Regions from separate parts of the Homo sapiens genome. Here all the other regions are linked to region 1. The links come from fine-mapping of genetic effects on plasma protein levels. Region 1 holds a variant in brackets. A gene starts in each other region. All regions are shown on their reverse strands.

Region 1 (5,148 bases):
TTTTTTTTTTTTTTGAGACAGAGTCTCACTCTGTTGCCCAGGCTGGAGTGCAGTGGCACAATCTCGGCTCACTGTGATACCTCCACCTCCCGGGTTCAAGTGATTCTCCTGCTTCTGCCTCCCAAGTAGCTGGGATTACAGATGAGCACCACCTCACCCAGCTGATTTTTGTATTTTTAGTAGAGACGGGTTTTACCACATTGGCCAGGCTGGTCTTGAACTCCTGACCTCAGGTGATCCGCCCACCTCGGCCTTCCAAAGTGCTGGGATTATAGGTGTGAGCCACCGCACCCAGCTTCTTCAACAAATATTAAGTGAACACCTATTCCCTGCCAGAAACCATTCTGAGTACTGAAATATAACTTAATAAATCATGCCCAAATCCCTGCCCTCAAGGAGTGTATGTTGTAAATATTTCAAAAGGCATACAATGAAAGGAACCTTTTCAATTTTGTGTAAGTTAGTGTCTTTCAGTCTTATTTGACTTTGGAACTCCTTTTTCTGTGAACACCCCCAAAAACACTATTCAAAGGAATACCATTATTGAAACACAGTTTGTTTCCATCTTTCTAAATTAAAGGTTAATTCTTGCCTTTTAAGTACTTTTTGCCTCTTAAGGATGTTTTTCTCCAGTTTGTCACATAAATTTTGAAATACTTTTCTTGTGTATATGTAGGAGAAAAATATATATATTCCTATTTCTTTAAATATTTGAGTATTTATATATGTAATAAATGCATACATATAAATATGTATATATACACATGCAATATATGATACATATTTAGGTACAGTACAAATATGAGGTTTTGCATTTTGCTGTATGCATTATGTATCCTTTAGTGCCACCTCATCTAACATTTTCTCCGTGGAGTCTTTCTTGACTACTTGTGGTAGAATTAATCTCTCATTTATCTTTATGCCCCAGTAACACAATGTGTGCACTTCTATTTACAGTACTTCCTGTATTTATAATTATTTATTCCCCATTTTCCAGCCTAGAATAAATTCTTCAATGTCACAGAAGGACCAAGGTCACATCTTTGTATTGCTGGGATCTTTTTTTTTATTTATTTATTTTTATTTATTTATTTTTTTTGAGACTGAGTCTCCCTCTGTCGCCCAGGCTGGAGTGCAGTGGTGCGATCTCAGCTCACTGCAAGCTCCGCCTCCCGGGTTCACGCCATTCTCCTGCCTCAGCCTCCCAAGTAGCTGGGACTACAGGCGCCTGCCACCACATCCGGCTATTTTTTTTTTTTTTTTGTATTTTTCAGTAGAGACAGGGTTTCACCGTGTTAGCCAGGATGGTCTCGATCTCCTGACCTTGTGATCCGCCCGCCTTGGCCTCCCAAAGTGCTGGAATTACAGGCATGAGCCACCGCGCCCGGCCTGTATTGCTGTGATCTTAAAGCCTGGCCTATAGTAGGTGCTTGATAAGTATTTGTTGAATTGAGTTCAATAAATACCATGAAAATTAATTTCAGGTTTATGACTTTGATGTTCTTAATTTAGACTGTAGCTTTATAAGCTTTATAATCATACTAAAGATGTTTTACATTTTTCCGTAGGTTACAGTGTACAGCATGTATGTTTCTATAATGGCTTTCAATGCAAAGGTTAGTGATCCACTTATTGGAGGAACATACATGACCCTTTTAAATACCGTGTCCAATCTGGGAGGAAACTGGCCTTCTACAGTAGCTCTTTGGCTTGTAGATCCCCTCACAGTAAAAGAGTGTGTAGGAGCATCAAACCAGAATTGTCGAACACCTGATGCTGTTGAGGTAAGTATGTTTTAATTTTAGATAACATTAAGCTAATACTAAGATATTAATATCTTTGTTTTGTCTCTAGAAGTACTATATCTTTTTTAAAAATCATATCTGTCCATAGGTTCTGGTTTAGAAATCTACATATATATTTTCTTTCACATCAAGGCTGAGGGTTATAATCATTCAAATCAGCAAGACTAGTTCCCTTAAAGGCGTTTCTCAGTAAAGGAGAGGCGATCTCTCTTTCCCCCACCTTGACGATCACTGTCCTACACAGCAGGCACTATATAAATGCATAATTAATAGCTTAAGTTTTGTAGTGATAGAAAAAGGGAATGTCCATTGGCTATTCCTATAACAGTGATAACTAAACCTGTATAGTGAGTGGTTTGTTGATAAATTCTTTCAAAGTGGTATTTGTCTACTTCTAGAGTAGATGGACTGGAAATTTCTTCACATTTCCGAATGTGAAAGCTGCATCGTGAAAATAGATAATCGGGCCAGGTGCAGTGGCTCACGCCTGTATTCTTAGCACTTTGGGAGGCTAAGGCGGGTGGATTGCCTGAGCTCAGGAGTTTGACACCAGCCTGGGCAACACGGTGAAACCCCATCTCTACTAAAATACAAAAAATTAGCCGGGCGGGGTGGTGTGTGCCTGTAGTCCCAACTACTCAGGAGGCTGAGACAGGAGAATTGCTAGAACTGGGAGGCGGAGGTTGCAGTGAGCTGAGATCGCGCCCCTGTACTCCAGCCTGGGCGACAGAACAAGACTCCGTCTCTTAAAAAAAAAAAAAAAAAAAAAACATATTCGGCTGGGTATGGTGGCTCACACCCGTAATTCCAGCATTTTGAGAGGCTGAAGCAGGCAGATTGCTTGAGCCCAGGAGTTCAAGACCACCCTGGGCCACATGGTGAAGCACCATCTCTACAAAAAATGTAGAAATTAATGGGGCATGGTGGTGCACGCCTGTGGTCTTATCTACTCACAAGGCTGAGGTGGGAGGATTGCTTGAGCCCAGGAGCCAGAGACCGCAGTGAGCCATTATCACACCACTGCATTTCAGCCGGGGCCACAAGTGAGACCGTGTCTCAAAAAAGAAAATGAGTATTGTTTACAGCAAGAACTGAAAATTGTTTTTAATCCTGTTAGTAGCATTAGAGAGATTAAGATACATTAACATATTTTGTCATTGGAATTCAGTGAAATACTGAAATGTTTTAAGAAAAATATATTTTTATTCTTTATAAAGTAGAAGCATGTTAATTGCTAAATACTTTCATTTTGAAATTGTGGAGTATTTATTATAGTTTTATTTTTACAGCTTTGCAAAAAACTGGGTGGCTCATGTGTTACAGCCCTGGAT[G/A]GTTATTATGTGGAGTCCATTATTTGTGTTTTCATTGGATTTGGTTGGTGGTTCTTTCTTGGTCCAAAATTTAAAAAGTTACAGGATGAAGGATCATCTTCGTGGAAATGCAAAAGGAACAATTAATATATATGCTACTGGACATTCTAGCAAGGTAATTGTAGTTTAGTTTTAATTCGGAGAGCAATGATAATCAGTGCACAGGAGTATAAAATATTATTTTAAACAGCGAAATTAATAATATAAAATGCCAAATGGTTGAAAAAATAGAAACCTTTCTGTATATTTGATCATATTTTTTTTTTGCCTTGTCAATGTATTTAAAGTTTACTTAAGGTCAGGAAATTCTAAAACAACTTTTCTGGCCTTGTTATTTGATGTATATCTTTTAAATTTACTGACCAAAGCATGTTTTAAGCTGCAATGCAGTAGTCACGGGTGGTAACCATGTAGTCAGGTATTGTTATTAGTACCTATCACTGCTGAGCTGTATTTAAAATTTTGGTACAATATATAAAATGGAGAAGAGCTTGATATTCAGGTACTAACCACAACTAGTCTGACATTGTTGGCAGTTAAAATCTTATTTTGAATTGTAAATTAGTTAAATTTTATGTGGAATTTGCTGAGAAAAGAATATAGACTACTGAAATGTCATTTTAGTTATTTTTCTTATGACCACATTGTACAAATGAATCTGTGTTAAAAAGACTATTTTAAATGTATTTCCTGCTTTTGTAAGCATTAAAGATTTATAAGAAAATTATTCAAACTATTTTTTATAAAATGAAAGTTATGATTTTTAAACTTATTGATTCCTCTTGCCCCTACCCCCTCTTTTTGGAAGATATTTTGATTCCTTATAAACTTTTACCCTAAGCTTATATATGTTTTCTGTCACAAGTGCTTCCTGGCACACAGACAGCCAATGGAGGGGATCAAATTCAGTGTTGTATGTATGTTTATGGCAACATTTTGAAAATAAAAATTAAATGTTTTTCTTCAAGTAGTTTTTTTTTAATTGCTGAGAGAAAAAAACAGTAAAGCTTTCTGATTAAGTAAAATTTAAATGGGCAGTACCATAATTTAAAAAACTAATACTTTAAAGAGAGAGACAAAGATATTTTGTGCCTTTGACAAATTAAATCTAATAGTGGAAAAATGTTTCTTAATTAAGCACTTTACTAGTGAAAAAGATCTCACAATTTATGCCAAATCAGGTACTGTATTTTCATGTATTAACACATAACCTTTTGTTTGAATACTATAGTTTTCAGTGGACAGTTGCTATTCCAAGAAAATTAAGCTTTTGAGTACTTTAGCAATTCCCAGCGTATTACATACACCCAGTGATAAGGTTCTTTGCATGTTTTGTGTTATGTATTACTCTGACTCTTTAGAGATTATATAAATCCTCCAAAAGTTAGACGAAACAAGATAGTACATTATGAGTCTTAATTTTATCATTGTGGAAAAATGTGTACTAACTCCTGATTTTGTTAATTTTATAACATAGGTTGAATTTTAGAGTGGGGTTTTTATAAGTAATGGAGGATAAAATGGGTGGGAGAAAATGGCACACAGCACCTGAAGAAAGATGGGGCAGTGACCTCTAGAACTCATGCATTGCCATTGGAAAGCCTGTGTTGGGCATCGATGTCAGATCCTGAAGAATCACCTGGAAAAAATCCCATCCTAGAGGCAAGGAGGCTACACCAAACCATACACTACAGTACTTTGTCACATGGTTGTCCATTATCATGTATTAGAGTCTAAATGATTACTTGAATAAAGAAAAAAAACCACTTAACTCTTACATATGAAATGTGTTTTGATTTTTAATTTTTGGATTAAGAAACTCAGATTGCCATAATAACCTTTTATTTCTTCCCGTGTATATTATTACAAATTATATATACTTTCAAACATAGTTTTTTTTTTTTTTAATTGAGACAGAGTCTCACTTTGTCACCCAGGCTGGAGTACAGTGGTGCAATCTCGGCTCACTGCAA
Region 2 (5,147 bases), not on the chromosome of region 1:
CAAATGATGGTCTTGATTTTAAGGGAGTAAAACAAGGTTCTGTACTAAGAATAAATGTTACGGTGGGGCTGATAGCTCAAGGAAAAAGGAAATAGTTAGGAAATAGCCTGATAAGGTAAACATAGCTGAAGGTCAAGGGAACTGAAGAGAATAGTGCAGTTAAAATGGTTGATAAAAGGGTTCTTGGGGGGCGGTGGCTCACCCCTGTAATCCCATCACTTTTAGGAGTTGAGATCAGCCTGGCCAACTTGGTGAAACCCCGTCTGTACTAAAAGTACAAAAAATTAGCCAGGCATGGTGGTGAGCACCTGTAATCTCAGCTACTTGGGAGGCTGAGGCAGGAGAATCACTTGAACCAGGGAGGCGGAGGTTGCGGTGAGCCAAGATCGTGCCATTGCACCCCAGCCTGGACAACAACAGCAAAACTCCGTCTCAAAAAAAAAAAGGGGGTTCTTACTGGTAAGTAAGATAAAAAATGATAGGAAACAGCTGATAAACTATGAGAAGAAAGACTGGCTGTCAGGCTGTCACATTGAGGACAAATTACAGATTCAATGGGAATGACCACAGAATAGAGATAGATGGGGGTAGGTGGCTGTAGGTACAGAGAGGGAAACTCACAATCCAGCATTTTGGAGGGGAAGTAATTTCATTGATGACTAGGTTGAAGGTGTGGCTCCATCTGTGGGTTGCTGATACAGAGTGAAGTTGAAGATGATTGGAAAAGAAAACGATGAGAAATTGTGAGGTCAGAGTGCTAATGAGTCATGAACATGGATGCTGAAATCATTAAGGTGATACAGAACATGAGGATAATTCCAGGGCTGACACAGAATTTCAGAAACATAACTGGGCACAGACAAGGAAGTAAAGGGATATCCTAGTCAGCACCAGATTTAGGGAATTAGAAATGCAGGCAAAGTTTGTCTTTGACATTTATCACCTTTGTTCCATGGCACAATTTCCTAAGCTTTGCTCACTTACTCCCAAGTAATTGTAATTTTGGTGCCTTCATGTTACTTTCTCACTGTACAGTTTCCTCAATCTCTTTTTTTTTTTTTTTTTTTTTTTGAGAAGGAGTTTTGCTCTGTCACCCAGGCTGGAGTGCAGTGGCAGGATCTCAGCTCACTGCAACCTCTGCCTCCTGGGTTCAAGTGATTCTCGTGCCTCAGCCTCCCAAGTAACTGGGATTACAGGCACCCACCACCATGCCTGGCTAATCTTTGTATTTTTAATAGAGTTGGGGTTTCACCAGGCTGGTCTTGAATTCCTGGCCTCAAGTGATCCGCCTGCCTCAGCCTCCCAAAATGCTGGGATTACAGGTGTGAGCCACTGCACCCGGCCTGCTCTTGACATATCTAAAATCTCAAATGGTCACAGGACACAAATGGAGAGTTCTCCATTAATATACTACTTTCCCCTACTTACCTTTGCATTTTGACAAGGCTTTCTAGTAACAAATCCTTAATCTGAAATTCGTAATTTCAAGGCCAATACTCTACAGAGGTATCTGCAAAGTCATGTAATTCCAGCACAGCAGAGGTCTTCCGTCCTGTTGCTCTGAAAAATACTTCTCCAATATTGATTCATCCTTTTGGCCTCAGACTTTAACTACTCCCATAAAATGTGAGTTTCTTGGGAGCAGGACCTGAGCTGAGCCAATAAAAAGACACCCATAAAAGCACTAACTCAGTCATTTGTTTTCCTAATGGTGCCAAGGCAGGCTGGTGTGTTGTGACATATCAATCCACTTCTGTGTACCTGCCCTTCCCCGTCCAGCAAAATATCATCATTTTTAATATATGTTGTGATACTAAAATATTTCAGAAGTGTTGACCGAGTAGACATTCAATAATGATTATAGCTGATACTTACAGAGCACCTACTATGTGCCAAACACTGTATGTATTTTAACTCATTTAATCCTTGCAACAATCCTGTTAGGTTGGTATTGTTATTCTCATTTTGCAGATGAAGAAATTTGAAAAGACTTGCCCAAGGTCACAGAGATGAGAAATAGAGGCATCAGCATTTAAACCTAGGCAATCTAGAACCAGAGGGTACATTTAACCACTATACATCTCCCCTAAATACATCTTTGCATCACACCTGTTATCTCAGCACTTTGGGAGGCCACTAAGGCCGGAGGATCGTTTGTTGCCAGCAGTTCAAGACCAGCCGGGTCAGCATACCAAAATCTTGTCTCTCCAAAAATTTTAAAAATTGGCCAGGTATTGTAGGGGCACCTGTAGTCTGAGATACTTGGGAGGTTGAGGTGGGAGGATCGCTAGAGCCCAGGAATTTGAACGTGCGGTGAGCATGATCCAGCCACTGCACTCCAGCCTGGGTGACAGAGTGAGACTGTGAACAACAACAAAAAAATCAAGTTTCCTGGATCTATACAAAATTTTCAATTTAACAAATTTTTATAAAAATTTGTTTTAAAATAAACACCCCTCTAAATGGCAAAGCTAGAACAGAATCTGGTCACAATCTATAGGTTAGATATAGGATGACAGGGAGGAGCAAGAGCTGAACACATCAGCTGCAGCACCATCTACTTTGCCTGCGACTCCGTTAGCAGGCCCACTTTGCCCTTTTATAAATTATCTGATCAACAACTAAGAGATTAAAATTCGATCTATGTTTTACTCTATCTGAATCCTCAATATAATGAAGAACTTTATAATTGTTAATTTATGGATATAATTTAAGTTCATTAAACCATTATTTCCTTCCTATATCCTCTCATTCTTCCACAAAAACCTCTACCTTTGGGTGTTTACTTTTACAGACACCCACGCACACACCCCACACGCACGCACGCACATGCCTTATCTTTTAACTCAAGATTCTCATCTTCCTTTGGGGAGAAACAAACATCATGAGCCTTGAGGTCCATTTTCTGAGGGAAAGGGGGGGGCGGAGGCGGGATGAATAGGTTTTTACCCGGTATTTTTTATCATAAACGGGGAGGTACAAACCGCAAAGAAACACTAGTCGCTTGGTGGGCCACCACCTCTGGGGCTCACTGATCAATCGCACCCAAACTCATTTACTAATTTAAAAAAGTACTGTGGCAAGGCTCGTTTACGTAAGTCTTGGAGAGAAGCCGCCGCCACAATCTGCCGCAGTCTCGTGCGGAGTCACGGCCACCGAGCTCTTCACTTTCCCCAAGAGGCTCCCACGCCTTCCCCATCCCCAAGGGAGCTAGGCGGTCCCTCGCGGCTCTGAGTCCCTCGGGGAAGGCCGCGAAGAGAGGCCGCAGGCGCCCTGGCGAGAAGGGAGGGCGGGGGCAGCGGGCGGCGGGCAGCACCCGGGCTCCAGTTCATGACCCCGTTATTCCACAGAAAAATGGAACATTCCGCTCTTTCCGCCCACAGAGGGGAGGTGGGGGGAACCCTTCGATCTAGTCTGGGAGAGGCGACGCGGACGCAGCCACCGGAATCCGGGACGCGAAGAGCCGCGTTACGGGAATCGCTACCCCTCGGAGTCCCGCCCCCTCGTCGACAGGCGGCCACTGGACCAATGCCTGGGCGCAAAGGGTCTCTCAGGGGCCAATCAGCGCCTAGGTCCCGGTAGGGGGCGGGGCGCAGCGTTGGCCGGCCGGGGGCGCAGCTGGGCGGGATTGGGGAGCGCCCCGCCCCGCCGCGGGACTGGGGTGGCGCGCTACCTCTGCGGAGAAGGATCTGACAGTGTTCCGGAGCCGGGGCGAGCAGCCAAAAGGCCCGCGGAGTCGCGCTGGGCCGCCCCGGCGCAGCTGAACCGGGGGCCGCGCCTGCCAGGCCGACGGGTCTGGCCCAGCCTGGCGCCAAGGGGTTCGTGCGCTGTGGAGACGCGGAGGGTCGAGGCGGCGCGGCCTGAGGTGAGGAGGGGCCGGGTGCTGGGTCGCGTAGCTGGAGTTAGAGTGTCGGTGGTTTCGGACGGGCTATCTGGCACTCGAGGAGACCTCCCTTCCCCCTGAGAGCAGCGCCCGGAACTTGTCAGCCCAGCCTGGAAATCCCCACATTCCTTCCCCTTCCTGCTCCCGGACCTCCGAATTCTACTTCCACAACTTTGTCACCTCGATTATCGCAGCCCTGAGTACAAACTTCACCCAGGCGCACGCACGCACCCCTCTTAACGCCCGCCCCGCAGAACGCCCTTCAAGAACAAACCCCCCTTTTTGTTACCAGATCCCACGTTTTTCCCAATCCCCTTTTCATCTCCCCTGAAATTCTATTCGCTCCGCACTTGTCTTCATTCTCGAGGTGGATTTCCCTTCCCCAAAGCCGTTTTTTCATCTTGAAATCGTAACGTTTCAGCTTTGTTGAAAGTTCACAATGCTTATAAACACTATTAACGTTTCTTTCCTTCTTTTGATCTTTTCTATTAATAATTATCATTCCTAACGAATTCCACATCTCACTGTATCCCAAGGAGAACAAATCAGTTTTTAAAATTTTACCTCCTCCGACCTAAACTTTTGAAGATAGTGCAGGAAGCAAGGGTCTGTTCTTCAGTGGATGAACAGCATTTTATTTCATAATCCGAAACTGAAAAAAAAAAAAAATCACAGGTTAAAAATAAGACGTCACCTTTTTTTTTTTTTTTTTTTTTTGCCTTCAGAAGGAAACGCATTTTGGCTTAGTTTGTGAAGTATTTCAACAATTATACTGCCTTAAAATAACTAGTTATTAGAATGCCAGGGTGAATTTTCTGAAAGATTGTGGTATTTGCTTTTGACAGTGCTGTAAACAAACCCTTTAAACTGTGTATGACTGCCAGCTTCAAGTTGGAACAACTCTTAATTTGAAATTACGGACTCAGATCATCAGTTTAGCTGTGTGCCATTATGTTAATTTCTTAAATTCATGTTAATTCCTATTTGGAAGTATTTTTGAACTATGAACTGAAATATTACATTTATAGAACCAACTTGCTATTAAATTGTGCTTTCCAACTATTTCTCTTTAGGGATAATCTTGAACGTTTGTTTTTAATCTTGAGTGAAAGAAAAAAATTACAGGAAGGAGAAAGTGTCAAAAAGGACAGACTGTAGTGGGATTTTTTTCTTATTTTAAGTATGTATTGACAATACCAGTTTAATTTTCTCACAGGCAATTTAGATTATTATAAATACTGCTGCCACCTAATTTAATATAATA
Region 3 (5,148 bases), not on the chromosome of region 1:
AGTCCAGCCCCTATCTCTTCTAGTCATTCTATTAATTTGCTAGACATACAAGTCCAGCTAGAAGTGTCATTTTGGATGATCAGTCATGTGAGTGAGAAAGTTATCTTGGACAAATAGTCCAATCTAGTCTTGAGATAGCCACTGTCACTGGGTGAGAGCTACCCAGCTGAACACTGTCATCCCAGGGAATCATGAAAAGTACATTGACATTGTTCAGGCACTAGGTTTTGGGGTGGTTTGTGATGCAGTGAAACAGTTCCCCTCTAGGTCTGTTCTGCAGTTTTCTTTGTGAAATTTTTCTTCCCTGGAGTTAGATGTCATGTTTTCTGGACCCCATGACTTTCTGTTTCCTGGTTATTTCTCCCGTTTTGCTACAGATTTCTCTTCCATAACTTCTAGGAAAGGAAGTATAGTAAGTAAATTTTGAATCTATGTCCAAAAAGGCCTTTATTATGATCTTACATTTGAGAAATAGATTGTCTGCGAGTAGGATTCTAGGTTGAAATTAAATTTCTCCTCTGGATTTTTTTTTTTTTTTTTGGACACAGGTTCTCTGTCTGTTTTCCAGGCTGGAGTGCAGTGGCACAATCTCAGCTCACTACAACCTTCACCTCCCGGGCTCAAGCAATCCTCCCACCTCAGCCTCTGGAGTAGCTAGGACCACAGGTGCGCATCACCACACTCGGCCAATTTTTTGTATTTTTGGCAGATATAGATTTTCTTTTCCTCTTTTTTTTTTTTTTTTTGATGGAGTCTCCTTCTGTCACCCAGGCTGGAGTGCAGTAGCATGATCTCAGCTCACTGCAACATCTGCCTCCTGGGTTCAAGTGATTCTCCTGCCTCAGCCTCCCAAGTAGCTAGGATTACAGGCATGCACCACCACACCCAGCTAATTTTTGTATTTTTAGTAGCGACCAGTTTTGCCATGTTGCTGGGACTTGTCTTGAACTCCTGACCTCAAATGATCTGCCCGTCTTGGCCTCCCAAAGTGCTGGGATTACAGGCGTGAGCCGCCACGCCCGGCTGATACAGGTTTTTACCATGTTGCCCAGGCTATTCTGGAACTCCTGGACTCAAGTGATCCACCCACTTTGGCCTCTTAAAATGCTGGGATTACAGATGTGAGCCACCACACTCGGCCTTCCCTCTGAATTTTGAAGGCATTCGTGCATTATTTTCTAGCTTTGTTGTTTGGAACAACAATGCCATTCTATTTCCAAATCCATTCAGTGCAATATGTTGTTCTTTCTCTCTGGAGTCTTTTCGTATCTTTTCTTTATGTCTGATGTTCTCATATTACATGATAATGTCTTGCTTTTTGGGGATATTTTTATTCATTGAGTTTAGCATTTGATTGACCCGCTCAATACTGAGAGTCATCTCCTTTAGTTACGAGAGTCTTTCCTTTATTATTTCTTTAGTAATTTCCTCTCCTCTATTTTCTTTTTTAATGTTCTGAAACAATCCTAGTCCTTTGACTTTGTAGATGGTTATAATTTCTAACAAATTTTCTTAACTTTATTTTTCAAAACTTCCATAAAATTCGGGACATTTTTATAATGTCTATGTTCTTTTTCATGAATGTAAAATCTTTCTTTCTGAGAAAATATTAGCTTTTTAAAAAGTTTTTGAAGTTCTCTTTAGCTCTCCCTGTTATTTTTGTCTCTTTTTTATGTTAAATGCTTTCCTCAAATGTCTGATGATCCCTGGTTATCTGTTCATATCTGAAAGGGACACTAAAGACTCATTAACAGTTCTGCATGCATGGCTGAGGCTCATGCACTGATGAACTTATTGAAGGAGGGTTGAGTGGTTTTGTTGGGGAACACTCAAAACTATAAATATCTGAAAATGTTTTATTGGGACCACTTAGTTTATCCAGAGATTAAATCCTCCAGTTTCCTGGGATAGAATGGGGAAAGGATCCCTTGGTTCTGTGGGCATTCAGTGGGAAGATTCACTCTGAATCCCGTTATTTTCATCCCTGCTCATGTTAGTCTGGCTTCTCTGGGTCTAGAACCTCACCTGATATTTAGATTTTTCACTGATACCTTCAGTAGAAGCAATGTTGAATGTTTGAGGTTTGCTGGCTGTTTACAATCAATTAAGGATTTTTAAAAATCTAGAACATTTGTGAATTCTTATATTTTCTTCCTGGTACTAAGTAGGAGCTAGCCACAGGTAGGCCTCATCATATGGATACATTACCCAAACGGTCACAGGTCAAAGGACAATGTAGTGATTAACCATAAGCTTTGGAATCAGGAAGTTCTGGGCTTCAGTGTCTTCCTAAAACTTAAAAAAAAATTTAATTTTTTTATTAAACTTTTTTTTAAATAAAAAATTGAGATGGGGTTTCGCCATGTTGATCAGGCTGGTCTCAAACTCCTGGCCTCAAGCGATCCTCCCATCTCGGCCTCCCTAAGTGCTAGGATTACAGGTGTGAGCCACTGTGCCTGTCCTCACTTTTCTTTCTCCATTATTAGGGCAAGGAGGCCAGGGGACAGGGTGAGGGAGAACCTAGAATGGGAATGGAGGCAACTTTCAGTCTAACTATGCTTTGGCCCCATGAGGAATCTACATGTAAACACTTGCCAGTATGGAGAGTCAATTGCACTTTGTGACAGGCTGTACAGCAGTTGGGACAACTGTGGCACATGCACAGGTTATACAGGCATATTTGCACCAGCACATGCATGGATGCTTGTGCACATATAGGAAACCCACTATACACATGGACAAAGAAGCACAAGTATGTCCACGCCATCCCTCCACACACACACTAGTCACCAGGAGAAAAGGGCTCAGCACATTTCATCATGCATCGCCCATTGGGGGAAGCCATGTAGGACAGGAGAAAGGGAAGATTATGAGGCAAAAAGAGAAATGAAACTAAAGAGTCCCACCCTGTCAGCATTAACTGGGATATAAGAGGTTGGGCTTTGGATAGATAGACAGACTCCTGGGTCCGGTCAACCGTCAAAATGTCCAAAGAACCTCTCATTCTCTGGCTGATGATTGAGTTTTGGTGGCTTTACCTGAGTAAGTGTTCTGAAACCTTCTATGTAGAAGTTTCCAGAGGACTTGCTATTGTGTGATGGATTTCCATGCACTGGTTTGGGCCTCAGTGAAGCAGAAGCTCACTTCATTTCTGCATCCCTCCCCTCTCCCTACCAGGCTTCCTTCTGTGGAGGGTCTCTGTCCTGCCTTGTTACACAGAGGTTTATCCAGAGACTGGTCTGGGGGTTTTAGGCTGGGGTAATTTGGGCTTATATTGGAAACAGCAACTGAAGAAGAGACACAGAAATAAGTGGTCAGATAAATTGGGGAAAAGAGATTTCCTCTATGGGTGTTATTCATATAATCAATAAGCCAGGAGAATTTGTTCTGGTGAGAATTGTGATAATTCTTATCATTCCCTCTGTTTTTAGAAGTGTTTGCTTTTTGTTTTGTTTTGCTGGGGTGAGGCTTTATGTAAGGTTTCTTTTCTGCACGTTGTTTTTGGGTTTTGGATGATGCAAGTGTACACACTCAGTTTTGGCCAGTGAAGTTCTTTGCATCCTGGTGGTATAGAGCCAAGTGTTCTGGCCTGAGCTGCAGCTGCGTCTCGGGCACTAACTGTTGACACTGGGAATATGTCTAAATTGCTCTGGCTCTCCCATATTTGAAATGAGAGACCTGGCTTTTTAAATGACCAGTTGTCACAATCTGTGCTTCTAGGACAAGATAATATTGAATGGCCCTTGCAGTTTTACAAAAGTCCATTTTTTTTTTAAATGGATACAAAATAACTATACATATTTATGGGCTACATATGTGTTATTTTGATATATACATACAATGTACAATGATCGAATCAGGGTAGTTGGGATATTCATTTCTTGAAACATTTAAATTTCTTTGTGCTGAGAACATTTCAAATGTTCTCTTCTAGTTATTTTGAAATACACAAGAAATTATTAATAACAATAGGCACCCCACTATGCTATCAAACACTAGGACTTATTCCTTCTATTTAATTGTATTTTTTCCCTTTTTCCTCATGTTCTAACTAACTGTATTTTTGTACCCATTAACCTGCCTTTCTTCATACCCCTTTTCCCCTATCCTTTGTAGACTCCAGTGACTATCATTCTATTCTCCACTTTCATGAGATCAACTTTTTTAGCTCTCATGTATGAGTGGGAACATGCAATATTTGTCTTTCTGTGCCTAGCTTAACTTAACACAATATTAATAAACTCTGTTTCCATCCATGTTGTTGCAAATGACTGAGTTTCATTCTTTTTTTATGGCTGAATATTCTACTGTGTTTATATACCACATTTTCTTTTTTTTTTTCTTTCTTTTTTTTTTTTTTTTTTTTTTTTTTTTGAGACGGAGTCTCGCTCTTTTGCCTAGGCCGGACTGCAGTGGCACTATCTCTATCTCGGCTCACTGCAAGCTCTGCCTCCTGGGTCCACGCCATTCTCCTGCCTCAGCCTCCCAAGTAGCTGGGACTATGGGCGCCTGCCACCATGCCTGGCTAATTTTTGTATTTTTAGTAGAGACGGGGTTTCACCATATTGGTCAGGCTGGTCTTGAACTCCTGACCTCAGGCGATCCACTCACCTCGGCCTCCCAAAGTGCTGGGCTTATAGGCGTGAGTCACCGCACCTGGCCATATACCACATTTTCTTTATCCATTCATCCATTGATGGACACGTAGGTTGCTTCTATATCTTGGCTATCGTGCATAGTGCTGTAATAAACATGGGAGAGTAAATATCTCTTTAATTGATTTCCTTTCTTTGGGATATATCCCCAGTAGTGGGATTGTTGGATCATATGGTAATTCTATTTTTAGTTTTTTAAGGAATCACCATACTGTTTCCCATAATGGCTGTAGTAATTTACATTCCCACCAACAGCGTACGAGAGTTCCTCTTTCTTTGCGTCCTCGCCAGCAATGCTTGCTTTTTGTCTTTTTGATAGTAGCCATTTTATCAGAAATGAAGTGATACCTCATTGTGGTTTGGATTTGCATTTCCCCAGTGATTAGCAATGTTAAACATTTTTTCTTCTACCTCTTGGCTCTTTGTATGTGCAGAAACCTTTCCAACATGGTGCATGAGAAAACACCCATATTTGAAGGAAAACAAATGTGTT
Region 4 (5,147 bases), not on the chromosome of region 1:
CCTCCTCCCGCATACCGAGAATGGAGCCCCTCAGCTCTTGGACAATGATGTGCAGGTCATCCACGTCCACAAAGTGCAGGTGCTTCTCGGCAGGGGCTGAGGCAGCGGCTGACAGCTCCAGGAAGTTGCCTCGGCCGGTGCTGACAATGAACACGGTGACGCCCAGGTCCTTGAGCTCCTGCATGGGGGGGCCCACAGGGTCGCTGGAGCCGCCATCTGTCACCCACACCAGCACTTTGGGCACCCCTGGCCGGGCACCTGATGCTTCAGCAAACAGCTGTTCCTTGGCATAGACCAGCGCCAGGCCAGTGTGGGTGTCACCCATGCGCTGGGCAGAAGCACGCACCGCATCCTGGGCAGCCTCACCCGAGCTGTGCTGGCCGAAGGGGAACTCGGTGTATGGCCGACTGCCCACGTGCACCAGACTGGCACGCAGGGCCCCGGTGCCCAGGGGCAGTGGAGCCACCAGCTGCCCCACAAACTCCCGAACCCGGGAGAACTCGTAGTGAGAGACGCTGGCTGAGCTGTCCAGCAGGAACATCAGGTCCCCTCGGGGGGCTGATGCTGGTGGACCTGGGGGAAAGGAGGAATGCTCAGCCTCAGGTGTGGGCCCCCCAGACAGCCCCACAGCAAGGCAGGGTCCCCCAGGGCCCCAGCTTTCCTTAAGTGGATGCTTGCCTTCTCCCAAAGGTCCTAGGTTGGGGGAAAGAGGAACTCTAAGCAAGAGGCCTGTACTTTTGGGGGTTTCACTGCACACTGGCCATGGGATCTAGGGCTCTCTCTGGGCTTGTGTTATCCCATCTGTGAGAGGGCGACTCTCCGCTCCAAGCCCCCACACCTTCCCATTCCTCACAGACCCTGCAAGCAGGTGGAGCCAAGAGTCCTGGCCTAGGCCCCCAGGACAGGCCTGAGCCGTGGGGCTGTTCCCTCCAGGCATGGCTTTCAGAGGAGCAGCCTGAGGCTGGAGTTCAGCCACGCAGCTCAGCCTGCAGGTGAGGCACCCTGGGCATGCACACAGCAGCAGGGGAAGGTGTCGGAGGCACAGCAATGACCACGCCGGATGGCCTGGCTGGAGCCCAGACCCCGCTTACTAGATGGTGGCCCCTCCCCTGGCCTCCATCCTCCAGCCCACCTGGACTCACACAACAAGATATAACCCCCAGCAGCCTGAAAGCCGGAACAGCCCCTCGCAGGCTTCCCCCTTCCTCCGGGCACCTCCGGGGTGGAGGCTGATGCCCCCTACACCGCCCCTCCCCACCAAGCCAGGGCACCAGCGTGCCTCAATTCTAGTCCCGGCCTTGCGGTTTTCCCCAGTGCGGTGGGGCGACTCCAACTTCCCTACCATCCCTCCACTAAGGGCCCTCGCAAGGGTAGGGAAACTGAGGCAGGGGTGCCCCCTTGACAGACATCTCCCTCTTCCTGTCCAGGCCCGCGATCCCGCAGAGATGCGGGCCGGGACGGCCCCTATGCCCCGGCGCTCACGGACGGTGTCGCCTGGAGCACCTGGGCCGCCAGCCTCAGGTGAGCAGGACGCTCCGCCCGCGCCCCCGCCCGGCTCCCGCAGCCTCCCAGCCCGCCCGCCCGTCCGGAGCAGGGGACAGCGACGGCCTTGCGCGGGCAGCGGCGCAGAGCGGTCACCAGAAGCCCCAGCCCCGGCCCGGCCGCCCGCCGCACTCACCGCGCTCCGCGCCGCTCCGCGCCAGCGCCAGCCGCAAGCTCAGGGCCAGGCCGAGCGCCGTCCAGGGGAGCATCGCGCGCGAGGGACGGGGCGCGCTCGGCAACTCGCTCGCTCGCTCGCTCGCTCGGGGCTGCAGGGCGCGTCACCGCGCGGACCAGGCCGGCCCCGCCCCCGGGAGGCCCCTCCCCGAGCGGCCACACCCACGCCGAGGCCACGCCCACGCCCTCCGGCGCGAGCGGAGGGCCACGCGCACAGACCCCGGAGAGGCGCGCACGAGCGGACCCCGACACGCAGGGACACGCAGCACCAGCCGAGATACGACCGAGGCACGCACGCGCAGGCACGCACACACACACACTCCAGTCTCCCTCTCCCGGCCGAGGCTGTGCGGCCCACGCTCTCCACCCCTCTCCGACCCCCAGCCGCGGGAGCCGAGCAGGGAGGTACCAGGCTAGGCCCTCCCCATGCCCACCACTGCCGTGACTCTGGGTGCTGGGGTCCCAGCAGCCAGGCCCAAGAGAACCCCAGGGGCTGGCGGTGGCACCAAAAAAACACGTCCAGACCGTGGTTTCGCCTTGGCCTCCGCGCTGGAGGCGGATAGGTGTCTGGAGTAACAGGACATGTATCCCAGGGACTGACCAGCAGGGATGGGAAGGACCATGGGGTGGAACTTACAAGGACACAGTGGCTTGAAAGGGGACAGAAGACAGGAATTCGAGAGAGACTCGAAGCACCCACGCCACCTGGGCTTCTTGGAGGAAGAGGCATGGGAGTGGGAGATGGTTGGTTGAGGCCCTGTCCAGTGGGACCACACTGGGCCTGTTACCCATATACCCTACCCAGTGAGGGGCCCAGACTCCAGGACCCAGGACACACCCCCAGCAGGACTGGAGGGTCCCACTGGTGAGACAGGAGCTCTTGAGTCTTGGGGTCTTGGTGAGGCCCAGACGAGAGGTGGCTGGTTGCAGGGGGCGTCCTGAGGGACAGTGGCTCCCAGGGCAGATTTCCCCTGCTTGGGTGGGGCTGGGCCAGCAGTGTCCCCTGGACAGGAGAACCCTACCCCGGCCCTCCCTCGGAGTAGCCATGGCCCTCTTCCAGGGCCTCCTCAGCTCAGAGCTGGGAGGTGGGGGACGTGGGGGGGTGTCTGCCAGGATGTCTCCTCCTTCCCCACCCTCTCCTGGAGGATGCGCCGCGGGAGAACGGATGGGGCTCCACAGGCTTCCTTCCTCCCTTTCAGGCAGGTGAGACACCGCGGGGCCGTGCGGACGGCCAGCACTCGACTTTGCCTAAAAAAGGAAGCAGCAGGCTGAGGCTGAGGAGCTGGCGGCAGGAACAAGGGAGAGCTGTGTCCCCGCCGGCGCCCCCCACCCCCCCTGCCGGGGATCTTGGCAGTGGAGGTGCTGGCTGCGCTCCACAGACCTCAGACCTCGGCTGGGACCAGAAATGCCTGGTGCTTCCGCCTGGGCCCGGTGGGGGGACTTTGGGTCCCCAGAGTGCAAGCTGTACCACTTCGAGGGGCCTCGCCAGGCCCCCCAGCCCCCAGTACACAGGGGCTGCCGTGGAGATGACGCTGAAGGCCGCAGCCGCTGGAGGACCTGGGGTCTGACCGGAAGCTGGCTGCAGACCCTGCGGAGGCACGTCCAGGTAGTCAGGCAGGGAGCTGGGCCGAGGGTCCCCCACCCTGGGGAGGCTCACAGCCAGTGGCCCGCTTGTCCCCCACCCTCGCCCAGCAGGCGGGCCACAGTCACACCTCAGCCAGCCTTGCAGGGCTGACGGGGAAGTTTCCCTCACTTCTGGAAAAAGTGAGCGGGTCTTCTTGGCTGTGACTCAGGCCCTCAAGGAAGCGGCCGCCCTCCTCCCTTCAGCTCGCCATCAGCGGGAGAAGGCACAGGAGGCCTGGCCTCCACCCAGCCTGGGCCGAGCTCAGCCACCTGCCTTGCTCCCGGCTCTGCCTGGAGTCCCTCCAGCTAGGAGACCCTCCCCATCAGCTCTCCCCGTGCCCCTCAGTCTTCAGGACTCATTCTTGTGTCCTGCCCTCCCCCCGCTGTCTCCACCCCGGAGGAGGGACGTGGACAGAGGGTCCCAGAGAGCATGGGGTCAGCCAGAGGTGCAGTGTCAGGGCCCGGGCCGGACTTGAGGCAGACACCGGAGGAAGCACAAATATAACAGCCGGAACCCTCCACTCTCCAGGGAGAAGGGCCCGGGGTAAGAGGCAGAGGCAAGGACGGGTCAGGCCAGATCACAGTGGGTGCTGGCCCCGAGCCCTCTGCCTCCTGCAGGCACAGCCCCTGTCTGATCCTGGTGGCCTGGGGCCCCATGGGGTGGGGAGCAGCCTGGTTTGGCTGCGGCCACCCCGCCCCCACGGTCTGGGCCTGGGCTGTGGGAGTCCCTGTGCCTCACTTCCCGGAGCCAGCCTGCCCTGCCGGTCTGTCTGCAGGCAGGTGGAGAGAGTTCCAGGAAGCTGGGGAGGCTGCTGTCACCCGGGCACCGCCCCTGCCCCCACCCGCCTTTGGGAATGCTCCCTCCTCCGCACAATCCAGGCTTCTGCAGAAGATGAAGGGCCTTTTGTCCCCAGCTGGCTGTGGTCATGTTTGACCCTGGGTAAAAGGGCAACTCCTGAGGCCTCTGACCCCACCCCTGACCCGAGCTGAGGGCAGGACGCCCAGGCCCGCACCCGGCGCCTTTTGTTGCTGTTTTCACGTATCTCACAAACGTACTCAAGCACACACAGGAGCAGATGGACGGGGCGGTGAGGGGCAGCAGTGGTGAGGGGCAGCGGCGGTGAGGGGCAGCGGCGGTGAGGGGCAGCGGTGCGGGCCTGAGGCACTGCTCTGGGGTGTGCCTGAGCCCACCCCACAACAGTAAGTGGGGCAGAGCAGGGGTCACCAAGAGAGCAGGGCCCACGCAGCTCCTAGACTCAACCTGCTCACTGGGGTCAAGGACAGGTCTTGGGGGCCTCGGGGGTCACTTTTCACTTCCCAGGAGCCCAGGCCTGCCCCTCTGGCCCCAGAGCTGACCCCCCTCAGTCCCCCGTGCCAGCAGCAGCTGGGGTGGCGGGTAGACACCTGGCGGGTAGCAGCCTGGGTAGGGGTGGGAGCTGCACCATCTGCGTCTGTCCATCCATCCCTCGTCTGTGTGCTGGGCACAGCCGCGCCCCAGCCTCAGTGCTGGGGACACACAGGCGCCGGGCCAGCACTGCCAGGCTAGGAGGGTGGGCGGTGAACAGCTAGGAAAGATACGGTCTACTTGTTTTCCCTGTGAGAACAGGGGGTCACTGGGGACTCGCACGCAAGGGGTACCCGAGGAAGAGCCTTCCAGGCAGAGAGAAGGAACCGCGAGTGCTGAGAGCAGGGTGGGGTGGGCAGGAGGGGCCTGCGCCAGGACTGCAGGGGCAGAGCAGGCTGGGGGCCTTCGGGAGGGGTGGCCGGGTGGAGGGTGTTGCCGGCCTCGACAGGGGCAGGAGGTTCGT

Which allele goes with the higher level. Alleles are on the strand shown, and positions count from the first base shown. The strength of an association depends on the size of the effect and on how common the allele is.
With allele A in place of G in region 1, the plasma level of the protein whose gene starts at base 3,686 in region 2 is higher (weak association).
In carriers of allele A in region 1, the plasma level of the protein whose gene starts at base 2,957 in region 3 tends to be lower than with G alone (weak association).
As copies of A replace G in region 1, the plasma level of the protein whose gene starts at base 1,810 in region 4 goes up (weak association).

The links. PIP is the chance, under the fine-mapping model, that this variant and not a neighbour inherited with it causes the effect. Protein levels are from antibody-based Olink assays in UK Biobank. Linkage for the fine-mapping came from a reference panel and not from the study's own genotypes, which makes the PIPs less certain.
Region 2: IL6ST starts here. The variant in region 1 is fine-mapped to the plasma level of the IL6ST protein (UK Biobank, PIP above 0.99).
Region 3: it holds the start of TIMD4, and the variant in region 1 is fine-mapped to the plasma level of the TIMD4 protein (UK Biobank, PIP above 0.99).
Region 4: VWA1 starts here. The variant in region 1 is fine-mapped to the plasma level of the VWA1 protein (UK Biobank, PIP above 0.99).

What each region holds. Positions count from the first base shown.
Region 1 is chr3:155,826,324-155,831,471 of GRCh38, reverse strand. SLC33A1 (solute carrier family 33 member 1) reads left to right here. Exons shown (of 6, transcript NM_004733.4): 5 at 1,569-1,784; 6 at 3,095-5,148. The coding sequence ends at 3,262. Among named protein-coding and RNA genes, the nearest start is that of C3orf33, 23 kb to the right of the region's middle. The variant G/A (reference allele first, on the strand shown) is at 3,137.
Region 2 is chr5:55,993,502-55,998,648 of GRCh38, reverse strand. IL6ST (interleukin 6 cytokine family signal transducer) reads left to right here and starts at 3,686. Exons shown (of 17, transcript NM_002184.4): 1 at 3,686-3,865. It overlaps IL6ST-DT (IL6ST divergent transcript), which reads right to left and starts at 3,482. Exons shown (of 2, transcript NR_102755.1): 1 at 3,095-3,482. RefSeq lists an enhancer at 3,133-3,644, cis regulatory regions at 3,233-3,906, 2,600-4,918 and a silencer at 3,476-3,955.
Region 3 is chr5:156,961,035-156,966,182 of GRCh38, reverse strand. TIMD4 (T cell immunoglobulin and mucin domain containing 4) reads left to right here and starts at 2,957. Exons shown (of 9, transcript NM_138379.3): 1 at 2,957-3,042. The coding sequence starts at 2,985.
Region 4 is chr1:1,432,353-1,437,499 of GRCh38, reverse strand. VWA1 (von Willebrand factor A domain containing 1) reads right to left here and starts at 1,810. Exons shown (of 3, transcript NM_022834.5): 1 at 1,679-1,810; 2 at 16-573. The coding sequence starts at 1,751. LOC107985729 reads right to left here and starts at 4,267. Exons shown (of 4, transcript XM_017003066.2): 1 at 4,212-4,267; 2 at 3,429-3,537; 3 at 3,098-3,304; 4 at 1,951-2,964. The coding sequence starts at 4,267. The coding sequence ends at 2,350. It overlaps LINC01770 (long intergenic non-protein coding RNA 1770), which reads left to right and starts at 2,927. Exons shown (of 2, transcript NR_125996.1): 1 at 2,927-3,312. RefSeq lists silencers at 1,693-1,882, 1,641-2,010, 2,757-3,051 and enhancers at 2,837-2,896, 2,156-2,899, 4,388-5,131.